7 linked regions of the Homo sapiens genome follow. The gene in region 2 interacts genetically with the main gene of each other region. Each region holds a gene or a part of one and is shown on either strand. Other genes may lie near its edges.

What was found.
Region 1: changes in CTBP1 (region 2) and IGF1R together harm fitness less than expected from each alone (positive genetic interaction), as found in Homo sapiens cells (one large-scale study listed by BioGRID).
Region 3: changes in CTBP1 (region 2) and RAB1A together harm fitness more than expected from each alone (negative genetic interaction), as found in Homo sapiens cells (one large-scale study listed by BioGRID).
Region 4: changes in CTBP1 (region 2) and SEC23IP together harm fitness more than expected from each alone (negative genetic interaction), as found in Homo sapiens cells (one large-scale study listed by BioGRID).
Region 5: changes in CTBP1 (region 2) and EED together harm fitness less than expected from each alone (positive genetic interaction), as found in Homo sapiens cells (one large-scale study listed by BioGRID).
Region 6: changes in CTBP1 (region 2) and FUT8 together harm fitness more than expected from each alone (negative genetic interaction), as found in Homo sapiens cells (one large-scale study listed by BioGRID).
Region 7: of CTBP1 (region 2) and FBXO11, changing one suppresses a phenotype caused by changing the other (phenotypic suppression), as found in Homo sapiens cells (one study listed by BioGRID).

The regions. Positions count from the first base shown.
Region 1 is NC_000015.10:98,910,539-98,914,038, forward strand, and holds part of IGF1R (insulin-like growth factor 1 receptor isoform 1 precursor), read left to right. Parts: intron 1-776; coding exon 777-903; intron 904-2,505; coding exon 2,506-2,744; intron 2,745-3,500. UniProt on the Homo sapiens protein: Receptor tyrosine kinase which mediates actions of insulin-like growth factor 1 (IGF1). Binds IGF1 with high affinity and IGF2 and insulin (INS) with a lower affinity. The activated IGF1R is involved in cell growth and survival control.
Region 2 is NC_000004.12:1,239,131-1,242,630, forward strand, and holds part of CTBP1 (C-terminal-binding protein 1), read right to left. Parts: intron 2,390-3,500; 5' UTR 2,202-2,389; coding exon 2,195-2,201; intron 1-2,194. UniProt on the Homo sapiens protein: Corepressor targeting diverse transcription regulators such as GLIS2 or BCL6. Has dehydrogenase activity. Involved in controlling the equilibrium between tubular and stacked structures in the Golgi complex.
Region 3 is NC_000002.12:65,092,107-65,095,606, reverse strand, and holds part of RAB1A (ras-related protein Rab-1A), read left to right. Parts: intron 1-3,500. UniProt on the Homo sapiens protein: The small GTPases Rab are key regulators of intracellular membrane trafficking, from the formation of transport vesicles to their fusion with membranes.
Region 4 is NC_000010.11:119,941,230-119,944,729, forward strand, and holds the end of SEC23IP (SEC23-interacting protein), read left to right. Parts: 3' UTR 1-3,428; downstream 3,429-3,500. UniProt on the Homo sapiens protein: Plays a role in the organization of endoplasmic reticulum exit sites. Specifically binds to phosphatidylinositol 3-phosphate (PI(3)P), phosphatidylinositol 4-phosphate (PI(4)P) and phosphatidylinositol 5-phosphate (PI(5)P).
Region 5 is NC_000011.10:86,251,253-86,254,752, reverse strand, and holds part of EED (polycomb protein EED), read right to left. Parts: intron 2,606-3,500; coding exon 2,513-2,605; intron 1-2,512. UniProt on the Homo sapiens protein: Polycomb group (PcG) protein. Component of the PRC2/EED-EZH2 complex, which methylates 'Lys-9' and 'Lys-27' of histone H3, leading to transcriptional repression of the affected target gene.
Region 6 is NC_000014.9:65,737,730-65,741,175, reverse strand, and holds part of FUT8 (alpha-(1,6)-fucosyltransferase), read right to left. Parts: intron 1-3,446. UniProt on the Homo sapiens protein: Catalyzes the addition of fucose in alpha 1-6 linkage to the first GlcNAc residue, next to the peptide chains in N-glycans.
Region 7 is NC_000002.12:47,833,499-47,836,998, forward strand, and holds part of FBXO11 (F-box only protein 11), read right to left. Parts: intron 2,504-3,500; coding exon 2,374-2,503; intron 1,374-2,373; coding exon 1,290-1,373; intron 1,214-1,289; coding exon 1,081-1,213; intron 1-1,080. UniProt on the Homo sapiens protein: Substrate recognition component of a SCF (SKP1-CUL1-F-box protein) E3 ubiquitin-protein ligase complex which mediates the ubiquitination and subsequent proteasomal degradation of target proteins, such as DTL/CDT2, BCL6, SNAI1 and PRDM1/BLIMP1.

The sequences.
Region 1 (3,500 bases), on a different chromosome or scaffold from region 2:
CGTCAGAGAGCTCTGGGTCTCCATGAGGGTGGGCAGTCATCAGTCTTTCCCTGGTCCTTATCGTAGTTTGAATTTGGTCCAAGGAATAAGAGAGACACTTGGCACAGCTTCCCTGCCATACCCGCCAGCCAGGCTACTTCCCATAGAGCACGTTAGGCTTGGCCAAGTGAGATCTTCTTGTCAGTGCTTAATCCAGCCTCCCGTTGTTTGTCAGCCCTAGCTGGAGGCCTCACAGGAGTTCCTGTGTCCTTCCAGTTTGATACCAAGTTTAGACCAAGAAAAGTTCCTTTCTGTGGCACACCTGTAGTCTCTTACCTGTCTTTGGTGGTTGTACACGAACAGGCAGATATCCACAACTGCAGAACAAGTGTCATCGTCTCTCTTAAGAAGTTTCAGGGCAGCCTAAAGGCTCACCTTCACCCTACCAGGCCCCCTTTCATAGCCAGGATCTTAGGGATGGAGAAGAAAGATAAGTTCACCTCGTTCACTGAAGTCGCCCCTTGTTTTCAGGTTAGGAAACCCAGGTTCATGTCCAAGTCCCTGGGCAAGTAGCCAGCGTAACTGATTGACCTAAAACAAAGGATGGAGCCCTTGGAGCTCTGCATAGTGAAATGTATGATTTCTTAGTGGAAAACGAGAAAGCCACTGAGGAAGCCCAGAAGGGAACTTAGCATATACAGCCAGCTTTGGGGAAGGGGGAAGCAGTGCCAAGCAAGACAGGTGCTTTTCAGAGACACATGAATCTCTGTCACTCACGGATGTACTCTTTGCCCCAGGTGAAAGTGACGTCCTGCATTTCACCTCCACCACCACGTCGAAGAATCGCATCATCATAACCTGGCACCGGTACCGGCCCCCTGACTACAGGGATCTCATCAGCTTCACCGTTTACTACAAGGAAGCGTGAGTTTCTGCTTTGGGTGATGCCATTCTGTTGACAGGGCTACGAATGGGAGAGGCCAGTCTTTCGATCCTTGAATGGGCTGGCTGAATACAGGGGGTCAGCAGAGTCCCCAGGGAGAGCCACGCCAAACATCCCTACTTCATCCTCATGCACCCTCTCGGGCTGTCCCTGTGATGTCAGTCACAGCCAGTGACAGCCATGATTGGGAAAGTGTTAGCTCGAGGCCTGTCATTCTTTAGTGAGTGATTAGAGGTGTTTGAATAAAATAAACCCAAAATGGGGAAAGCTTGCTTTTTCCAGAATTAGGTCAGTCCAGACTCATGAACGATGATGGGGGACTTCACTGAAATATCGTTTCAGCCTCCTTACCTACTAGGCCTACTCCAGGAACACCCTGCAGGCACGTGGCTCTTTTGTATCATCTTATTCCTGTCTCTCTCTCTGTGTGCCTCTCCCAAGCTGTGGCCCTCTGCTCTAGGTCATGAGCCTTCCAAACAAGCGAAGAAAAGTGGAGAGAGAACAACCTTCATGTCTTGAGCCTTTTGTGACTTCTCCTAGACTCTGTTGGGAGCTTTTCCTGTGTGATCACATGACATTCCCCCATCTAAGCAGCCGAGGCTTATTCCTCCCGACTGCAGCCCTCTTTGATCTCCCTCTTCCTTCCTTTGCCTTCTATATCCAGGTGGCTACCCCGGTCTACTTAGCCATCCCCCTTACCCAGGTCCCATGTTAATCCCATAGTTCTCTCTCCCAGATGTGTGGCTTCCAAAGAGCAGCAACCAGAGGCACCTTATGACAGCATCTTGTACTCTTTCCTCCTGCCAGAGCTGGGGTCCTATGAATGAGAAATTGGGTACTTAGGATTACTAGGCTTTCAGAGTTTGTACACAGGGGAGCCCCTCATGATCTCCCATCCCATGACAGCAGACGGTGTTTTGTTCATGTTTGTTTCAGAAGCCAGCGGCCAGCAGCTGTCCAGCCCTTTTAGCTGATAAATATAAAATACCTACCCAACCATGCATCTGTGCGAAGTACTATATTCTCTGATAGTCACACCAGTGCTTTGGCAATGTCAGCTGGTAATTTCACTGAGGACTTGATGCTGGTTTCTAAGGCAATCTGGAAACTAAATATTTGAATATTATAAGATGCTTAAGCATCAGAATTGTTTATGAGCAATCTGAATTTTAGAAGCTACTTCTGTTTGTCTGTAGGAAAGTCATTTTTCTCCAACAGTTACCTTCTTTCAATATCTGATATTTGCATTAACTGACTATGCTTGTTTTTTTCTTGATGAAAAAATGCTGCAATCAGAAGAGAGAAAAATAGTTTTTGCATATGTTCTTAAGGAATAGTAACTATTGAATCCCAGTAACTGTTGAAGTGGCTCTTCCTGAGGCAGACCATTCAATTCTGTAATGCCCGACTGGGGAAGCCCAGAGTCCAGTCACTTCATTTCTTCTTCTATAAAAGTCTAATTGATTATTTGTTTATTTAGACCTCCCATTATAGAAAGTGTGACATGCTGGGCCTCTGGGGAAGATTTTTGAGGGTTTTGATGTCAGAGCCCCGAACTTTCTCTGAACTTAATTGTCTTTCAGACCCTTTAAGAATGTCACAGAGTATGATGGGCAGGATGCCTGCGGCTCCAACAGCTGGAACATGGTGGACGTGGACCTCCCGCCCAACAAGGACGTGGAGCCCGGCATCTTACTACATGGGCTGAAGCCCTGGACTCAGTACGCCGTTTACGTCAAGGCTGTGACCCTCACCATGGTGGAGAACGACCATATCCGTGGGGCCAAGAGTGAGATCTTGTACATTCGCACCAATGCTTCAGGTATCCATGCCTAGACAAGCCCCCAGCATCCACACTTCTTCGCAAGCTCACTGGCCTTGCTTGTACCAGGTGTCATTGTAGGGTTAGCAGTGAGCTATGCCTGTTGTCTTTCTTGTCAATAGGTAATACTGTGTCATATTCATTTCCCCACTGCTAACACATTAGGCTCTTCTGTGCCATTTTCTGGCCTCGGTACTATCTTCCATCATCTCCTGCTTTGTGCCTGTGAGCCCAGGTCCTCCAGGGTGCTGGGCTGGTTTCATTGGAAGGCCCAGCCTGGAAACAGCCGTCTTCAGCTGCCCTTGTTTCTTGTTTGTTTTGATGTTCAATCCTCCAGGAACTGAAACCATGCTGATCTGTGTTCCACTTAATTCATGTAGCTCACTGGTTTTCCATCTTCATTCTGGAGCTTATAGAGTTCCAAAGAGGTCAACAAAAGTTGAAAGCCTGCAGATGTAGTATGTTGTGGATATTCAGAGTATTCACTGATGATGAGGTTCCTCCTTCCTTTATCTTTAGGTTCTAAACCATCTCATTTCTCAACTCCAGATCTGGAAACAGTAAAAGCAAACGTTAATAGTTTCCAGTATATAAAAACTAGTTTAGAAGTAGGAAAATCCACTTCAGTTTTAAAGACACTGATTGTTTTAGTGTATTGGAGCTTCTATCACAAAAAAACAGTGTAGCCTGGGTGGCTTATAAGCAATAGAAATGTATTTCTCACAGTTCCAGAAGCCACAAAGTGCAAGATCAAGG
Region 2 (3,500 bases):
TAAAGCTCATTAACACCCATTCCTTTCGCGTATGACGCAACTAAGCCTCATCGGGGCCAACTGGAGAAATAAGGGCTCTGAGGCGTCACAGAAGCATGGCAGCTTCCAGGCACCGCCCGACCGCCCCGTGCCAGGCAGGGAGCACCAGGTGGGGCCACTGTCAGCCCCACGGCAGCTGGGCAGAGGCGGAGCTGGGGCCAGGGCCCAGCCGGTCCCTCCCCTCCTCCTCCAAAGACCGGCCACAGGAGACCAAGCAGTACCCAGGACCGTTCGGCCAGCAGGAGGGGAGGCGCACGACAGAACCAAGGAGCAGAGTGACCCAGCAGGCTCTCCAGTGGCCGCGGCCACAAGCACGCTCGGCCCAGTCTCCCGCCCCATCCGCTGCCCCATCCGCCTGCAGGTGAGCAGAGGCCACCGAGCTGCCAGTATCCAGGAAGCAGGGAAGTGCCTCCTGGAACCCATGGCAGAGAAAAGAAATGCTCTGGTGGACAGCCCAGGGGTGCAGTGGGCCTGCAGCACACGCCTGCAGGGGACGGGGCATGGGTCTCCACTGACCACCCCAAAGCCGAGGGCTCCCAGTACGGCTGGGCCCATGCCCCTCCCGTGAGGTCCTCGCGCCCTGGCGTCCTCGGAGGAGCCACTGGCCATTCCACCCACTTTCCTTCAAGATAGGAAACCAGATCCCAAACGTGAGGTCTGCACGGTCAAAACCGCGTCCTGGTTCGCCTGTTCCTTCATTCCCTCTGGACGGGAGCTGCCCACGAGCACCATAGACAGGCCGCCCAGTGACACTGTACATGGCCTCCCTCTGCACGTGGCCTCCCTCCCCGCTGTGTGTGGTGGTGATGACTTCTCATGAGCAGAAAGGTTTATGTTGCTGTTTCTGAGTGAGTGGATAGACATCCGCTCTCAGTATCCTTGGATTTCACTTCTGATGAGGAAGGCATGGACACACGGGATCACTGCAGACCGCTCGGCTGCGTCAGAACCGCCTGGGGGGACTCCTGGGTGCTGGGTGAGTGGGAACCGGGTCCCTCGTCAGAACCGCGTGGGGGACTCCCGGGTGCTGGGTGAGTGGGAACCGGGTCCCTCGTCGGAACCGTGTGGGGCACTCCCGGGTGCTGGGTGAGTGGGACCGGGTCCCTCGTCGGAACCGCCTGGGGGGACTCCCGGGTGCTGGGTGAGTGGGAACCGGGTCCCTCGTCGGAACCGCGTGGGGGACTCCCGGGTGCTGGGTGAGTGGGAACCGGGTCCCTCGTCGGAACCGCGTGGGGGACTCCCGGGTGCTGGGTGAGTGGGAACCGGGTCCCTCGTCGGAACCGCGTGGGGGACTCCCGGGTGCTGGGTGAGTGGGAACCGGGTCCCTCGTCGGAACCGCGTGGGGGACTCCCGGGTGCTGGGTGAGTGGGAACCGGGTCCCTCGTCGGAACCGCGTGGGGGACTCCCGGGTGCTGGGTGAGTGGGAACCGGGTCCCTCGTCGGAACCGCGTGGGGGACTCCCGGGTGCTGGGTGAGTGGGAACCGGGTCCCTCAGCTGAACGGTGGGGAGGGGGGAGCAGGTGGAGACACCAAGCCCCATCAGGCTCAGGCACCCAAGGTGCCTCCTCACATCACCCATGAGCTGCCCCTGACCACCGTGCCAGGGTTCCCCGGACAGCCCACCCTTGCAGGCTTGGGGACACACCCAGGAGGCTTCACAGTCACACGGCCTGTGCTGAAGCAGGCTTTGCAGCATCCCCCAAGCCCAAGGCTGTTTCCGACTGCACGCACTTCCGGGCCAGAGAGCGCAGACCAACCACAAGGAACAGCTCCACAGGGGCCACGGCCCTGCTCCTGGGCCAGCCGGGTGGACACCTGAGATTTCCAGGGTTCCGTGTGGGGCTCCACCCTCGTGCTGGCGGCCTCCACATGGAGGCCCTCCGTGCCTCTCAGACACTTTCCGACAGAAACAGACAGCAGATGCCACGGACAGGCCTGACCACAGCTGTGCTCTGCCACCAGGTGTGCAGGAAGCCCTCCCTCGAGGGGCACCTGACCTCGCCCAGAGCACACCGGGGGTCAGGTGGCAGCAGTCCGGCCCGACGCCCATGCAGCCCAGGTCCCTCGACTTGATCCGAGGCAGTGCCTCCTCCACACGGTCGCAAAGAGACCGGCCGGCTTCACTCTGCCGCCGACGCCAGGAACCCCTACCAACCTGACATCTCTTAATATGGGCTCAGCTTCCACGACCATGAATTCGACTTTTCAAAGCTTTTTATCTTCAGGATCCCCAGGCAGAACCGCGTCCTGTCTCGGAGCCTCATCCCACGTCCTTAATTGTCTCGAGCCAAAGTGCTCAGGCTTCTGATCCGCGGCAATCACTGAAGCCTGCGTCGGGGTCAAAGTCTTACTAAAAATCAAACACAAGAGACACATTAAAATGCCATCGAAGGTCCGACCAGAACTCACAGACTCCAGGGAACGCCTCAGAAGTGGACCTCACTGCATCTGCCACACCCGGGACTGCTGTCTGGGACCTACCTGGACTCGGGGGCCTGCTGACAGCCAGGGGCCCCGGCTCCTGCCGCACACACGAAGGGCGCTCACCCTGAGGTTGCAGTGCCAGGCCCGAGGCCGCGCCCCTGTGGCCCCGAGGCCTACTCCTGGGAACAGTCCCCCAGGGCTGCGGCCACCCCCACAGGCTCTAGCCGCATCCAGATGTCCCCAGTGTCCAAGAACCAGGGGACGGAGGGCACAGGGTGTGTGCTGTGGGCAGGGAAACTGCGGAAAGGCTCTGCCTCCTGTTCTGGAAGCTTCTATCTCATGTCACTGATTCCCGGGCCTCTGTGACCAGGCAAGGACGTGGAACTTCCCAGGAGCCACCGGGAGAGGTGCTGCTGGCTTTCCAGCATCCAGCCTGGCACTGCCTGCACTGAGCCGCGCCGGCTCCACCTCCGACCCTCAGTGCATCCTGGCGACGCTCCCTCAATTCTCCCAAAAAAACTGCTCAGCTCTTCCTGACCGCTACGGCCAGGGCCTGGCGGGAAGCTGAGGGCACGAACCCCAGTGGCTGAATGCACAGGGGCAGGGGGCCCCTGAGAGGGCCAAGCCTTCCAGTAGAGGCTTGAGAGTGCACACGATCGCCCAGCCCTCGGGAGGGTGTCACTGAGCTGCCCACACCTGGCCCCTGCTCTGGCATGAAGACACAGCACCGAGGCTGACCCCAACGTGCAGCTGACATCAGGCTGACCAGGACAGGAGCCGGCCACCACCAGCCCAGCAGCATGGCAGGCGTGGGCTGAGACGACTGCCTGCCAGGCCAGAAGGGGCCACTCAGCCAAGCCTAAGACCCTGGTAGTGTGCTGTGAGGCCGCCCCTGCGCAGAGGCCTCGCAGACAAATCTCCAACCCTCAACTCCCTCTGCAGGATTCAAGCATACATGCCGACCATCTCCAGCTTCCAGAGACACCATCACAGGGGCTGGGGTGCAGCCCCACGCACGCACCTCCCATCCAGGGTCC
Region 3 (3,500 bases), on a different chromosome or scaffold from region 2:
GAGTCACTTGAGGCCAGGAGTCAACATAGCTCCTGTGACCAGCCTGGTCAACATAGAGACTCTATCTCTACCAAAAAAAAAAAAAAAAAAGTAACCAGGTGTGGTGGTCCATGCCTGTAGTCCTAGCTCCCCAGGAGACTGAGGTGGGAGGAATGTTTGAGCCCAGGACTTCAAGGCTGCAGTGAGGCAAGATTGCACCATTGCACCCCAGCTTTGGGGACAGAGTGAGAGACCCTGTCTCAAAAACAAAATAAGGCTGGGCGCAGTGGCTGTCCGGGCGTCGTGGTTCACGCTTATAGTCCTAGCACTTTGGGAGGCCAAGGTGGGCAGATTGCCTGAGCTCAGGAGGTCTAAGACCAGCCTGAGCAACATGGCGAAACCTCATCTTTGCAAAACATACAGAAAAAAACAAAAAAAACCACAAAACCTCTAGTTGCCAGTTATTTTTTTTATTTATTCCTAGTGATTCTTCTTTTTTTCTTTTTTCTGAGACAAAAATTTCACTTTGTCTCCCTCGCTAGAGTGCAGCGGTCAGCTCACTACATGATTCTTTTAGAGACATGTTAATTCTTTATATTGAGCTGAAGCCTGTTTCTTTTACTTCTGTCTCTTCTTATTCCTCCGCCTTGTAGAGCTGCCTGAATCAGATTAATTCCTCTTTTATTGGCAAGCCTGCCCTTCAGATTGATCTTATCACAACCTTTCTTCTACCTCTGAAGTCCTCATTCTTTCCTGTAATGATATTTTCAGAACCTTGTGCAATTTGGGTTATTCTTACATTTTATAAATGCCTTTTATTAAATTTGATTTCTTAAATCAAGTATGAGATATAACACATGAGGTAAATCCTGTCTTGATTTGGAGCCTGAATGAATTTCTCTCTTGAACTTCAAGGGCTCATGGCCCTTTCTTATTATTAATCAAAGACAACCATTTGTTGTTTCAGTAGCTATATTATTTCTAGTTTGGGTCTTAAGGTTTTTGATTTGCTTGTTTTTTCTTTTTTCTTTTTTTTTTTTTTTGAGACGGAGTTTCGCTCTTGTTGCCCAGACTGGAGTGCAATGGCGTGATCTCGGCTCACTGCAACCTCCGCCTCCCAGGTTCAAGCGATTCTTCTGCCTCAGCCTCCCTAGTAGCAGGGATTACAGGCATGTGCCACCACGCCGGGCTAATTTTGTATTTTTAGTAGAGATGGGGTTTCTCCATGTTGGTCACGCTGGTCTCGAACTCCCGACCTCAGGTGATCCGCCTGCCTTGGCCTCCCAAAGTGCTGGGATTACAGTCGTGAGCCACGGCGCCTGGCCGATTTGCTTGTTTTTAATTAAAATAGGGGCCTTGGCCAGGTGCAGTTGTTCACCCCTGTAATCCCAGTACTTTGGGAGGCTGAGGCAGGCAGATCTCTTGAGTTCAGGAGTTCAAGACCAGTATGGGCAACATGGTGAAACCCTGTCTCTACCAAAAACACAAAATTCAGCCAGGCATGGTGGTGTGTCCCTGTAGTTCAAGGTACTCAGGAGGCTGAGGTGGGAGGATTGCTTGAGCCCGGAGATGGAGGTTGCGGTGAGCCAAGATTGTGCCATTTGCACTCTAGCCTGGGCAACAGAGCGAGACCTTGTTTCAAAAAAAAAAAAGAAGAGGGTCTCACTTTACACTTCTGTGACTGGTGTTTTAAAAATCTAAACACAGGCCGGGCACGGTGGCTCACGCCTGTAATCCCAGCACTTTGGGAGGCAGAGGCACGCAGATCACAAGGTCAGGAGTTCGTGACCAGCCTGGCCAGCATGGTGAAGCCCATCTCTACTAAAAATACAAAAAAATTAGCTGGGCATGGTGGCAGGTGCCTGTAATCCCAGCTACTTGGGAGGCTGAGACAGGGGAATCACTTGAACCCAGGAGGCGGAGATTGCAGTGAGCCAAGATTGCGCCATTGCACTCCAGCCTGGTGACAGAGCGAGACTCCGTCTGAAAAAAAAAAAAAAAAATCTAAACACAAGATTTTACTTTTAATCCTATCATTTCCTCTTGCTTGGCTTCAGTAATCCTTCAAGTTTTCTAGGTCTTTTCAAAATCTTGATTCTGTTGATTTATATTTTAATTATCTTTTCCTTTCAGCTTTTCCTGTTCAGGTGTGACATCTGGGTCTTTATCTGAGTTTTATTAGATTATAAAACATTCAGCAAGATAGGGCAGGTACTGAGTCCAGTTGTACACCATGGAAGGCCTCTTTCTGTGATTGTTCATTCATGAGGCTTTATGAAAATGTCTACATTACACCAGGCACTTGGAGGTTACAGAGATGAATAAAACATAGTCCATTAGGAGGCAGACAATGGGAGAGACAAACATGGGAAAAAGTTACTCTGATTATGAGGAGTAATGAGAATTACATATGAAGGAAAGTATTGTTAGTACTGTTAGGATTTAGTGTCAGGAAAGTTTTCAGAGTAGCAAGGAAACATCAGAAATTTTACTCTTTCTGCCAGGCATGGTGCATGTATTATTCTGTTCTCACACTGCCACAAGGAACTGACCAAAACTGGGTGATTTATTAAAAAAAAGGTTTAATTGACTCATAGTTCTGCATGGCTGAGGAGGCCTCAGGAAACTTACTGTGGCAGAAAGGGAAGCAGGCACGTCTTACATGGCAGGAGGCGAGAGAGTGTGAAGGAAGTGAAGGGGGAAGAGCCCCTTATGAGACCATCAGATCTTGTGAGAATTCATTCACTATCACTTGAATGGGGGAAACCGTCGTCATAATCCAATCACTTCTCCATAATCCAATCACTTCCCTCAGTGATTACAACTTGAGATGAGATTTGGGTGGGGACACAGAGCCAAACCATATCAGTGCCTGTAGTCCCAGTTACTTGGAGGCTGAGGCAGGAGGAACACTTGAGCCCAGGAGTTCAAGATCTGCCTGGGCAACATAGCAATACCTCCATTTTGGATAAAAAGGAAATTTTACTTTTTGGGTGCCATTGCTTACTTTAATCAGCTGTAACTTCTTGTTGACTTTTAGTCAAAAAACAATTTTTCCTTCTATCTTTGTGAAAGAGGTTGGTGAGCAAGGAAGAAAAGGAAACTTGCTTTATTGAGCAGCTTCTATAGTCAGGCACATTTTACAAACATTAGTTCATTTAAACCCCTTTAGCTGTTGTACAAGGTGAATGCTATCTAGCATTTACAGATGAAGAAACTGTTAGGTGACTCTCCCTAATATTAAATAACCAGGAACCTGGATTTGATGTTTTGAAGTCAGGGTAGCTTGATCCTCGAGTTCATGCTTCCTCCAAGGATACACTGAAAGACTTTGAGCCTCTTTTTTTTTTTTTCTCTTTTTTTGAGACAGGATCTGGCTCTCTTGCCCAGAGTGCAGTGGTGTGATCTCAGCTCACTGCAACCTCTGCCTCCTGGGCTCAAGCGATTCTGCCTCAGCCTCTCGAGTAGCTGGGACCACAGGCGCACGCCAGCATACTTGGCTAATTTTTGGATTTTTAGTA
Region 4 (3,500 bases), on a different chromosome or scaffold from region 2:
CTGGGAAGCGCTCTCCTAGCACGTCCATTTCCAGGAGGAGAAGCAAGCAGATGAGAGGTTTTCCATTTTGTCATCCAAGGTAGCTGTGCACTTGCCTTGTTGCTGAAGTTCCAATAATGTGAAAACCAAAGTAGAGGTTTTTTTCTTCTTCTTTTTGTTTTCTATTAATTTCACTTATACCAAAGTGTTTGAAAGTATGAAATGTGTTGCTTCTGAGTTATATAAGGCTACTTCATGACAAGACTGCTTTGTAATATTTCACTTTGTTTTACTACAAATTCAGATCACTTTGTTTTACTATAAATTCAGATTATCCAAATATTTTCCTAATACTATGTGGGAATGCTGATTTTCTTTTGTTACGTAGTGGAAACATTTTGCATTGTTTACATAGTTCTCATGGAACATGGAAATTTTTGAAAGTGATATATGATACACATTTTTTGTGTATGTATTCTAATTAGTGTGAATAAAGCAGTAACATTAATGCATTTTTTAAGCAGCAAACTTATGTATTTCTCTTGTCTTCCTTAAAAGTGTCCCCATGAACTCAGTGTTTATTCCCTTTTCATTTTGAGTACCTGCTTATATGGTCAGTATGTAACGTTAGCATTGGCTCCTAATGGTAGAATTAGAACAGCAAGATTGTAGAGCTGTAATTGACTCCAGACAACATAGATTTCAGCCACCTCATTCTACAGCTGAGGCCAGGACAATAAATGCCTTTCCCAGACTGGGTAGTGGCAGATCTGGGATGGAATATGGTTTTCTTGATTCCCTTTCAGCCTTCATTTCTCTCTCTCAGGACTACTACTTTTTAATTACTTTTCACTTAATTTCCCAATACTGATGAAATAAAGAAAAATGAGGGTTATTTATATACATTTCAATAAAATCCAATTTGATTTTTCAACTTACATCTGATTTTTGTTTGTGTCATTCAGCCTGTCTTCTGAGTAATGGGCAGAGAAGGACCAGGGTTCGTAGAAGAAGCATGTGGCAGCTGAGTGGCAGCAGTCTTGCCCTTTCATTTTAATACTTGAGTACACAGAAAATAGAATTTTTGAGTGACTCTGCCTGTGGATATATATACTCATACATACATATATATATATACACACACACATATGTATGTATGTATGTATTACTATTCAGTCTCTTAAAAACCAAAAAACAGTAGATCCCCTGAGGGTAGAGTCTTTATGTATGAACATATTGTTCACTGTTGTAACCACCTTGCAGGATTTCAGTCTATAAACTAGGTGAGAATCCAGCTGCTGAGTGAAGCTTGATCTCTGCCTCTTCCTCAGGAGCAGCTCATCCCCTGACAACCTCCCCTCCCAGCCCCTAATCTGGTTTAATGCCCTCCTTTTCCCCAGATAAAGAAAGTCATGTCTGTAGTTATTCCAAAAGTGTTTCATGTGTAGAGTTTGGCACAAAAAGTAAAAAGCGCCAGCATCTGAAGTCAAAGGTGAAAGAGTCATCACAGTACTGATGAAGACACCCAGGCCTCGTCAGCTATGTTAACGTGCTGTATGACAAGAGGAACCTGCTTTCTAAGTCTGCTGGACACGCGTGCTTCTTGAATCCAACCAGACAAGCATGTTTTCTCAAAACCACAGTATAAGACAAGGAAACTGCACAGATTCGAGTGATTTTTGAGGTAAGTATGTTATTGGAAAGGTGTGATCTATATAGAACCCTGTACATGAAAAGGAGGAGATGCCGCTATCTTGGCAGGGATGATCATGTATTTGAAATAGTAACTCACAGCATTTGGTCTCATGATAAGAGTACTGAAGATTATCCCAGAAAACCTAGGATGATTGGTATTTATAGTACCATTGTTTCAGGTTTTTATGACTTGAGGCATCTAACTATCTTAATGCTGTACTTTAGTGTTTACCAAGCAGCTTTCTGGTGGAAACTTGAACTGCAGACACTGAGTGTTTTGGTTTTCCTCCAAGTTATAGTTCTCATTGTAACTTAATAAGTTGGCATTCCAGCTTAGTTTGAGTCAGTTTCCCAGGGCTGGGTCCTCAGAGGAGAGTGGATAGAATTCAGTTCCTCTATGAGCTGGGGTGCTGACATTGTGTTCCTGCTGTTGACTGTCCCTGCGGTGCACGGGACAGACTGTCAGCTAACCTGTCTTCATGACATTTCTATAATACTCCTCAGGGGGTTAACCCCATCTCTACTAAAAATAAAAAAAATTAGCTGGGCATGGTGGCATGTGCCTGTAGTCCCAGCTACAGGAGGCTGAGGCAGGAGAATTGCTTGAACCCAGGAGGTGGAGGTTGCAGTGAGTTGGGATCTCGCCACTGCACTCTAGCCTGAGTGACAGAGCGAGACTCTGTCTCAAAAAAAAATAAATGAATAAAAAATAAAACAGCAACTCTTGCAGATTTCCCGAATGTATTGGTCCCAGAGAACACTGAAAATAATGTCATGTTGTTAACACCAGTGGGAGTTTGGGAAATAATTCCAGCTCTTTAATACTTCTTTCAGCTTCAGATTAAGTGAAATGAGTTTCACATATTTCAATATATGAAATTTTATGATGACACATAAAACAGGCCAGGGGTTATTGAGGACACATCTGTGAGATAGTGGGCAATGCTACATATTCGTTAGTGGATGTGCTGCAGTTCAGGTTCATGGACAGGTGGGACTGGTGTGGTTGGGATAACCCACCATGTTTGTCTTTCATTTCTTGTATAAAGAGTGGTTTTTAAAAGACCTTACTATGGAATTTTCACAAATACTCAAAAGTATGGAGAATGGTACAGTGAATCCCCATGTGCCCTTTTCCCAGCTTCAGGGGTGGTGTCAGTGATAATGATTTGGCTCTGTGTCCCCACCCAAATCTCATCTTGAATTGTAATCCCCACGTGTCAGGGGAGGGACCTGGTGGGAGGTGATTGGATCATGGGGGCTGTTTCCCCATGCTGTTCTTGTGATAGTGAGGGAGTTCTCACAAGATCTGATGGTTTTAAAAGTGGCAGTTTTCCCTGCACTCTCTCCTGCCACCTTGTGAAGAAGGTGCCTGCTTCCCCTTTGCCTTTCGTCACAATTGTAAGTTCCCCGAGGTTCGTCATGATTGTAAGTTTCCTGAGGTCTCCCCAACCATGCAGAACTGTGAGTCACTTGAACCCCTTTTGTTTATAAATTGCCCAGTCTCAGGTAGTACCTTGATAGCAGTGTGAAAATGGACTAATACAGTCAGGGACCTAAAAGACAGGTAAAGAGATGTGGCCAGGTGAAGACGGAAAAAGGACAGTGCATTCCAGACCTGTGGAAAGACGCGAGGTTGGAAAGAACATCACAACTGGGGCGACTGAAGAAATTATGTTGTTAAGCACGAAATGCAGAGAGAGAGCTATGTGAATGTGTTGAGTGTGATTTTCATTAAACAATTTTTAAAGAAAGCATTTCTAGTGGTGCTTTTATTTTTGCAGCCGCTTAATAGCATTCACTCTTGTTGAAAGGAGCACAGTTTG
Region 5 (3,500 bases), on a different chromosome or scaffold from region 2:
TACTCAGGAGGCTGAGGCTGGTGAATCACTTGAACCCGGGAGGCGGAGGTTGCAGTGAGCCGAGATTGCACCATTGCACTCCAGCCTGGCAACAAAAGCGAAACTCTGTCTCAAAAAAAAATAAAATAAAATAAGTCCGGACACAGTGGCTCATGTCTTTAATCCCAGCACTTTGGGAGGCCGAGGCGGGTGGATCACGAGGTCAGGAGATCAAGACCATCCTGGCTAACACGGTGGAACCCCGTCTCTACTAAAAATACAAAAATTAGGTGGGTGTGGTGGCATGTGCCTGTAGTCCCAGCTACTCAGGAGGCTGAGACAGGAGAATCGCTAGAACCCAGGAGGCAGAAGTTGCAGTGAGCCAAGATTGCACCACTGCACTCCAGCCTGGGCAACAGAGAGAGACTCAGTCTCAAAAAAAAAAAAAAACCATAAAAAATAAAAATTCAAATAAAAATAAGTCTTTGGATAGTTTTGGAGTATTTACATATTAGTTACATATTTAAAAGTCTACAATTTGCTTAATGAATTATTTTCTCATGGGTACAGATAATCAAACATTAACTTTCACATGTATGATAGCCTTTTTCATTTGTTGCATACTCTAAAATTAAAACTATACATACACCATACACAATTTTGTAATACTAAACTTTTATAAATTTCTTTCCATTTTCTTTTTTTTTTTTTTTTTTTTTTTTTTTGAGACAGAGTTTCACTCTTGTCGTCCAGACTGGAGTGCAATGGCATGATCTTGGCTCACTGCAACCTCTGCCTCCCGGATTCCAGTGATCCTCCTGCCTCAGCCTCCCGTGTAGCTGAGATTACAGGCACTCGCTATCATGCCCAGCTAATTTTTGTGTTTTTAGTAGAGACAGGGTTTCACCACGTTGGTCAGGCTGGTCTCGAACTCCTGAGTTCAGGTGATCCACCTGCCTCAGCCTCCCAAAATGCTGGGATTACAGGCGTGAGCCACTGTGCCCGGCCCCATTTTTCTTATAGCTTATAGTCAGTCACATTAGCAAAAACCTATTATTATTTTATAATAGTACTGAAGACCTCTGAAGATCCTGTGTATCATCACAACCTATTAATTCATTATCTCCTCTATGTTAATGTTCAAAAAAAATTCTTTATATGGCTGCTAACTAGGTTATGTCTTATGTGGTAATTGTTTTTGTTTTCTTTCTTCCTTTTAAAGAAATTCTAACAGCAGAACTTTTTATAATTCAATAAACTATATGACACCCCTTTATGTCACTTTAAATAAAAATAGGGATTCTTTTTGTTAGAAAACCTAAAACACTGCAATCAGCACACTGGAGCACAAACTATACCAATTATAATACTATCAAAGCTAAATATTAACTTAGGTTTACAGTGGTGTCTTAAAAGTGGACTCAAATTTAATTAATGCACTACATTCCCAACTAGGAAAAAAATAACCTCAACCTTTTCTTAAAACCGCAAAATTTTTCCTCTGAATTGTTGTTTTCAAAGAATCTAGGAACTAAACAACTATAAGCAGACTACATTATCTTAAAACCTACATTTGACTAAACACCAAAAACAGAAGAAAAAAAGCTATTATTTCATGTTATCAACTTCAGTGGTAACTTAAAAATATTTAGAGTTTCAATGAATTGACCTTGTCAAATAGTAAAAGGCCTAGAGCCTTACATGTCATTATAAAATTTCCTTAAAAGGCTGGACATGGTGGCTCATGACTGCAACCCCAGCTCTTTGGGAGGCCAAGGCAGGTAGATTGCTTGAGCCCAAGAGTTCAAGACCAGCATGGGCAACACGGTGAAAACCTATCCCTACAAAAAAAATTAGCCAGGGATGGTAGTGCATGCCTGTAGCTACTCAGAAGGCTGACATGGGAGGATCACCTGAGCCCCAGAAGTTGAGGCTGCAGTAAGCCTTGATTAACCACTGCACTCCATCCTGGAGGAAGGAGTAAGACTCTCTCTCTCTCAAAAACAAACAACAACAACAACAACAACAATCACCACCAAACACTACCTGTCTCAAAACAAAAAAACCCAGCAAACTCAAATGTTTACTGCAAGTAATTAAAACATCTCAATAACTTATTTAAATCCACTGGATTTATGCTTCATTTATAGAGCCATTCATTACCTTAATTTTAAAAAAATCACAGCCAGTTCTTACGCTATTTGAATGATAAATACCAAAATCACTTTAAAAAGAACGCCAATTAAAAAAAAAAAAAAAGGACGCCAATTCTTTCAACCAAGTATTTATGAAGACAAATACAAGTATAAAACCTGTTTCATAAATAATTAGGGGTAATATATTAAATATAGATGTATTTTCAGCCATGCATACTAGTTTTAATTAATTTCTAGAAACCTTCACTCTTACATGAAAGAATCATATTGCTAAACCAGCTTCACAAAATGCACTTTGAAATTATTCTATTTCAATATTACATTAACACCAGATCTGGAAATCAAGCCAAATACTAAATAGACCCCTTAACACTCACTCTGTTGCTTCCTACAGTTGCAAACACTAATGGATCTCCTTCTTTACTGTGCCAGTTAAACTGAACTCCAAACAATGGTTGGTTATGATCTTCCTATAAAATAATCATGAAATAAGAAAAGATTAATGTATCTTACAAACCAGAAAATGACAGTAAACTAACCTATCCCCTTCTTTTTTCCAAAATGCAATACATTATTTTGTGTATCATACATAAGCTAACTTTTGACACTAAAATTAAAAGATGTCTACTAGTCTAGTTTTCACATTTTAAAATATTGTGTATGATAAAGTTTTATCACAACCAAAGGCTGAAATCACAAGTTAGGTAATAACCGCTTACCTACGAAAACACTTATAATATTTGCCTTTTTCTTAATAAGCCAATCATATTCTGAATCACAATAAACTGGATAATTTTGGTGGATACAAAAGGACACAATTTATTTTTCTGAAACAGGAAATTAACAGATGGCCTTAATAGCTTCTCTGGCATTCACTAAATTTTATAAGGCTAAATTTTTCCCTTGTAAAGTGAAGCATAGCAGACTCCATTCAAATCACTGTTTTCTGTTAGTCAGAATGAGAATATCTGAACACTGGGGACTAGGGGAAGAAATAAACTGTAACTGCACAGTTACCAGGAGGCTATAGGAGATGTACAAAGAACAATTATGCACTTTTGTTCACAAAGTTATTTTTCAGCTTTAGGATTTTACTGGCCAACTTCTGGCATTTAACACTGACTTTCAGATGCAGTTTAAGGCACTGTTTTCACTTTTAAAGTACGTCTTTCGTTTTCTCATCATTTGAAAAGCCACAGCTTTAGGATTTTGAAATACTGCCTTAAGTATAAAAGGCAGCTAAAAACATCTTCCAGGTACAGTACCTAAAAGTAGTACGTTAATGTAAATAAATATGCACATGAAACTATAATTGACTTTTAAAAAATATGCTGAGATTAATTTCTCTCCTTTTACAGGAGCAAA
Region 6 (3,446 bases), on a different chromosome or scaffold from region 2:
AATTCCACAATCTGAGCTTCAATCCTTGAGGTTAATGCTTAGTAATAAAGTTAAACTAAACTATCACCCAATTTAAGCAATTTATACATTGTGAAAAGAGAACAATGCAACTCAGATGAAATTTTCCTAAATCTCCAGTTATGGTAATCTTAGTTAATGCTTTATTGTCACTATACCAATAGTTTTGCATGTATTTAAAATGACGCTACTCATAGTAATTGCTTATCTGCTCAGTGGAGCAATTTAGGACTACCCGGCAGTCTTTTAAAACCTTGGCATTTATGAAGATTAAAAACTTGAATGGTGATATGGTTTAGATTTGTGTTACCTGCCCAAATCTCATGGTGAACTGTAATCCCCAATGTTGGAGATGGGGCCTGGTGGGAGGTGATTGGATCATGGGGGCGGTTTCTCATGGTTAAAACCATCACCCCTTGATGCTGTGGTCACAGTAGTGAGTTCTCGTGAGATCTGATTGTTTAAAAATATGTGGCACCTCCCAATTCTCTTCCTCCTGCTCCAGTCATGTGAAGTGCTGGCTCCCCGTTTGCCTTCTGCCATGATTGTAAGTTGCCTGAGACCTCCCCAGCATCATGCTTCCTGTATAGCCTGCAGAACCATGAGCCAGTTAAACCTCTTTTCTTTATAAATTGCCCAGTCTCAGGTATTTCTTTTTAGCAATGCGAAAACAGACTAATACAAATGGAGATGCCTATTCTTAACTCTTATCAAATAAAATCTGACTAGGTTAATCATCACCTCAACTTAGAGAATCTGAATTTCAGAAAACTTGAGGGGCAATTCTCAAATGCTATATATAATTTGCAAATGAAACTACATTTGCCCCAATATTTTTAATTTTGCAGATAGGCAACTAAAACACAAGGAGATTAAGTGATTTATGCAAATTTTAGTGATAGAATTTCAACTAGATATAGAACCAAAATAATAGAAACCTTGCTTTCAGATTTATTAGTTCAACAACGATTATATTGGCAATGTCATTTTACAATTGAGATCATTGGTAGAATACCGAGACTATAATAAAATAGGGATCAAAAAGATTTGGAACTTTTGAATTTCAAATTCAGCCAAAGGCTCATAGAAGGCAAGCAAAATTAAGTGGGACTCAGGAAAAGAAGAAACTAAATAATTAAAGCAGCTCCAATAATAGCAAACTACAATAACAATGACAGAGGCTAATATTTACTGAGCTTTTGCTAACTGTCAGACATTGTTTTTAGACATTATCTAATGTAATTAGATTCCTTTCAGCATCCCCATAAAATTCTATCATTATGTTTGTTTTACAAATGTCAAAGGGAAGTTAAGGCATTGCTCAAGGTTATACTAATAAGTGGTAAATTCAGGTTGGAACCCAGGCAGTCTGCATATGCTTGAAACTGCTATATATATTTTCTCTTGTAAATCTTATTCTCCATGTTCATATTGTAACACCAGAAAGATATAGCATAAGACCAAAGACAGTCTTGGGTAAACCTGACAGTCTTCTTTTCAGGGTGTCTTCACCCACTCTTCAGTCATCCCTAGCCAGGAATGCAGGACCTTGTGTTACTCTTAGGATGACCACAATCTCTACTGTGACAATGAACCGTGATGTGTTTCCTCCTCTCCACTCTTAAACGTCTTACTCTCATAAAAACAACATCGCACCCTGTCCCACACCCTTAGAGACCTGTTTCTTCTGGGGATAATCCTAATAATTAGTGTATGTTTTGCTATCAAGAGTTGTTCATGTGTTAACCTTGGTGGATAACAGAACTGTTTTCTTAAACCAAAGAAATAACTATTATAATAATAGTAGAGATTTCAGACACTGAGGTGGCCCATTATAAAAATGACAAATGTGACTGTAGGCCTCTGCAAGCATACCAGTGCTACACAGGTGTGGCCCTTTATTTTTCTCATAAGAATGACCATTAAAGATAGCAGCTGAACTTAATGAGCACCGATTATGTCCCAGGCAGTGTTATAATAGTGTGCTCTTCCCTCACCTTGTCTCAACTCATTTAACTATTATGACAAACCTGTGAGGTACTATTATTATTCATATTTTACAGATGAAGAAGCTAAGCCACAGAAAGATTAAGTAAATTTCAAAAAATAAAAATAAAAATCCAAAAAGGAACTAGTTAATGGCAGAGCCACAGTCAGAACTCTTTCAGGCTCTTGAGTATATATTCCCTTAGGATAAACACCTAGAACAATGCCTGCCACAAAGTACGTGCTCAATAAGTATCTGTTGAATGAATATTGCTCCAGGCATAATACCAGCCCAGTAATGGAGACACAAGTCCATGGGTGATATTTAACCCTTAAGATCCATATATAACATTAAGAGGAAGTAATTTTAAAACTGTCTATATCAACCATGGGACAATTTACTGCAAAAGGCTAAAAAGATTACTATAGTGTTAATGTTCGCATTTAGTCACTCTATGCTTCCTCTCTTCTTTCCTTACCTACCACGTGGTTTAAAAGTTCAAATCACATGGCAGGTAAATGAAGGCTTGCAGCTGACGTCCATACTCAGGTTTGATGCTTGACAGGTGGCATGACTGAGAGCAGTCCATGGTTTGCAAAGCAGTGGTTGGCTACATGTAGTATGTTTAACTTTATTCTGTGTTGACATGGCACTGTATCATTTTTAGTACATCGTAAAGCACACAGTAATGGGTAACAGCAAAAATCCTGCCAAAGGATAAAACAGATATGACTGTATTAAAAAAAATTTTAAAAAGGGGGAGGAATCCATTAGTCTGAATTTCATCCCTTAGAAGTAGCCTGAGTTTACATAAGCCTCCAAAGCTTTCTCAGAGTAGATGGGATCTTATTTTTGTCAAAATAGATAGATAGGGGCAGGAGGATATCCTAGTGTGAGAAGTTGGAAGTGGCTGAGAGATCTGTGCACTTTTCCTGTAATCTGCTTTGTTTTACTATACAATAAGAGAATAAGACCCAGGTCTTTTCTTTGTTGTGAGAAACACCAGAAGGATTAATGCAGTAACAGCTGCACTGTACAGCACTCAGCATTGTAAGCTAGATAGAGCCTCTGTGGATGCAAATACTTTTCTTGTCTTCTGCTCTGGGAAGTAATCACAGAGTTCACACCTTGGGATTTCACCCTGTGCTTTCCTCCATGGTACTCTCAACAGGTATCCACTGTTGTTTCATGAGCCACATCTCAATGGAAATTCCTGTCCAGAGCCATCTGTCTGGAATAGTTAACGTAGTTTTTGGTTTTGCCCTCTGGGCTTCCAAAATCTGATTCAAAGTGTAATAAGGGGAGTAGAATTGCGTGCGGATTTGGAATTAGACCAAGAGAGGCTCATGAGAGTATTGTAATAACTGCCATAAAGGGAGGTGTCATAGGGGGAAAAAAAGGATTTTGTATTATGATAACTTTTAATGGCTGAAACTACAGA
Region 7 (3,500 bases), on a different chromosome or scaffold from region 2:
ATGAGGAGATAGAGGAAGAAAGCAAAAGAGGCTGTAAATGCAAATTTCACTAGCAAATAATAATTACTAGCTATCTTAAAATGTTCTATGTACTGTATCCTCAAAATAAAAAAACCACAAATCTTCAAATGACTCAGTGTTTGACAGATATTACATTTATTCTTAGAAACCTGACCATAAATAGCTTTGAAATAGTACAAAAGTATTTAAAAATTCTATTTCAGTTCCTTTAAAAACATAGCAATAGAAATATTAGCATCTTTCTTTGCAATTCTCCTGCCTCAGCCTCCAGAGTCGCTGGGATTACAGGTGCACACCACCACACCTGGCTAATTTTTTTTGTATTTTTAGTAAAGATGGGGTTTCACCATGTTGGCCAGGCCAGTCTTTAACTCCTGACCTGAAGCGATCCACCCACCTCAGCCTCCCAAACTACTGGGTTTACAGGTGTGAGCCACCACACCTGGCTGCATCTTTATTTTCAAATAAAAGATGAAAAAGCTATTTTTCTTCGTTTAATGAATAACTCAAGGCAAATGGAGAAAGTACTAACATTAGGAAACATATACAGCCAGGCACAGTGGCTCATGTCTGTAATCCCCGCACTTTGGAAGGCCGAGATGGGCAAATCACTTGAGGCCAGGAGTTTGAGACCAGCCTGGCCAACATGGCGAAACCCTATCTCTGCTAAAAATACAAAAATTAGCCACGCATGGTGGTGCATGCCTATAATCCCAGCTACTTGAGAGGTTGAGGCATGAGAATTGCTTGAACCCAGGAGGCAGAGGTTACAGTGAACTGAAATTGTGCCACTGCACTCTAGCCTGAGTGACATAGCTAGACTCTGCATCAAAAAAACAAAAAAGGTTGGGGGGGGCGGGGAGAAAGAATTTATATACAGCTATAATTTCTGAACTCTTATGTTTTCACTTCCTTCACTTAAAATATGTGTGATATCTTCATTCCTACTTTACCAGCAGGATATTATAAAACTGGATTTTAAGTCACTAGCATTTTTAAAATCCTATCACATAAATGAGTAAAATATTAAAATTTTAATGACAATGCATTTCAAAATACCTGCACCAATCATGGTGATTGGAGATTCAATATATATCCATTCATCAGTATATATTCCAGAATGAACAAAGATAAGTCCATCAAAATGAGCCTCTTGTACCCCACCAAGGGCATCTTCAATAGTATCATAATACTAGAAAAAAATAAATGTGTCAGTACAGAACTGAAAGATTACCATTTTAAGTCATAAAAATAAAAATCAAACATACCAACATATTTTCTCTTCCTTTATATCTTGCAGGGTTACTGTAGAAATGTTCAGCAAATCCTGGCTTTACATGTGCACCTTTATACTAAAATGTCAAAAACAAAACAAAACCATTGACTACTAACATAAACCTTATATTTAAATTAATGTACAATTGCATGAACAACTTTTATTACAAATCAAAAATAATTCTCAACTATTCCAAATAATTTTCTGTCAGAGTACAATGTAAAATCTAAAACAAGTTATGATCCGGTAATATCCAGAAACAAAGAACAGGGTTTCTCAATCTCAGCATTACTGATATTTTAAGTCAGTTAATTCTTTGTTATGGGGGCTGTCCTGTGCACTGTAGGATGTTTAGAGGTATCCCTGGCCTCACCCAGCCAAATAGCAGCAGCACACTCTCCTCCCATTGTGACAATCAAAAAATGTCTCCCGACATCGCCAAATGTCCCACAGAAAGCAAAATCATCTCCAGCTGAGACTCACTCACGAAGGGCCGTATAACAATTAAGCTAAATGTGGAACTTTAAAACAAATGCTGAACACTAATAATTTAAATACAAGTTCAAACAGACCCATTGAAATCACAACTGCTCTTAGGCTACTAATGCTTACTGTACTAACTTATTAATGGGGGGATATGTCAGTAGTGAAAAGAATTGCTGAATATTCTGTTGGTTGATAAATGTTCATTAAAACCTACTCAACTTTTTTTTTTTCCCTGAGACAAGAGTCTCACTCTGTCGCCCAGGCTGGAGTGCAGCAGTGCAATGTCAGCTCTCTGCAACTCTGCCTCCTGGGTTCAAGTGATTCTCCTGCCTTAGCCTCCGAAGTAGCTGGGACTACAGGTGTGCGCCACCATGTCCGGCTAATTTTTGTATTTTTAGAAGAGATGGAGTTTCGCCATGTTGGCCAAGCTGGTCTCGAACTCCTGACCTCAGGTAATCCTCCTACCTCGGCCTCCCAAGGTGCTGGGATTACAGGTGTGAGCCACCACGCCCAGCCTAAACTTATTTCTTAAAAGAAAGTTATTTACAAATGTATAATATAAACCAATATATTCTATTTATATTTCATACCAACTGCTGGAAACTCTCTTTCCAGGGATTTGGATGTTCATACTCTTCTGGATTAATCTGGTAGAATTTTCCAGGTTCAGGATGCATCATAGGGCGAGTATATTCAAATACTTCCATATATAATCGTTTCCTGAACAGAGAAAGGAATTAAAATTTTCTTGATAAAATGTCCTTTAGATTAATACAGTTTTGAACAACTATAACAATTATTTGAGGCCTCAAAAACTTGAGTAAGAAAGTAAGAATAGACAAAAATGAATATTAAATCACAGGATTTTTTTTTTGAGACACAGTCTCACTGTCATCCAGGCTAGAATGCAAGTGGCATGATCTTGGCTCACTGCAACCTCCCTCTCCCAGGTTCAAGCCTCAGCCTCCTGAGTAGCTGAGATTATGGGCATGTGTCACCACGCACAGCTAAAAACAGGATTTAAAACGTGAAAACGTATTTTTCACATTTAAAATTTTCAGTGTAGTTGCATATGGAAATTATGTTTTTTTCCTTTTTTTTCTTTGAGACATAGTCTATTTCTATCACCCAGGCTGGAGTGCAGTGCCACGATCTCAGTTCACTGCAACCTCTGCCTCCTGGGCTCAAATGATCCTCCCACCTCAGCCTCCCAAGTAGCTGGAACTACAGGCACATGTTACCCAGGCTGGTCTCGAACTCTGGAGCTCAAGTGATTTACCCACCTCAGCCTCCCTAAGTGCTGGGATTACAGGCGTGAGCCACCATGCCTGGCCGAAAATTAGTTTTCCTGCAAAAATTTTCACAATGTAACTGCGTATGAAAATTTGTCCACACAGAACAACAAAAAGTTTCAATTTCCTTACAAACTGTTTACTCAGGAAGGGGAAAAAAAGTTATCCTTACTGTAAAAACATCATGATTATCACTTAAAAAGATAATTTTCTTTCTTTTTCTTTTTGAGACAGAGTCTCACTCCCGTTGCCCACACTGGAGTGCAGAGGCGTGATCATGGCTCATTGCAGCCTTAACCTCCCAGGTTCAAGTGATCCTCTTGTCTTATTTTTTGATTTTTTTTTGTAGAAATGAGGTCCCAGTATGTTGCCCAGGCTGGTCTCAAACTCCTGGGCTCAAGTAATCTGCCCACTTCAGCCTCCCA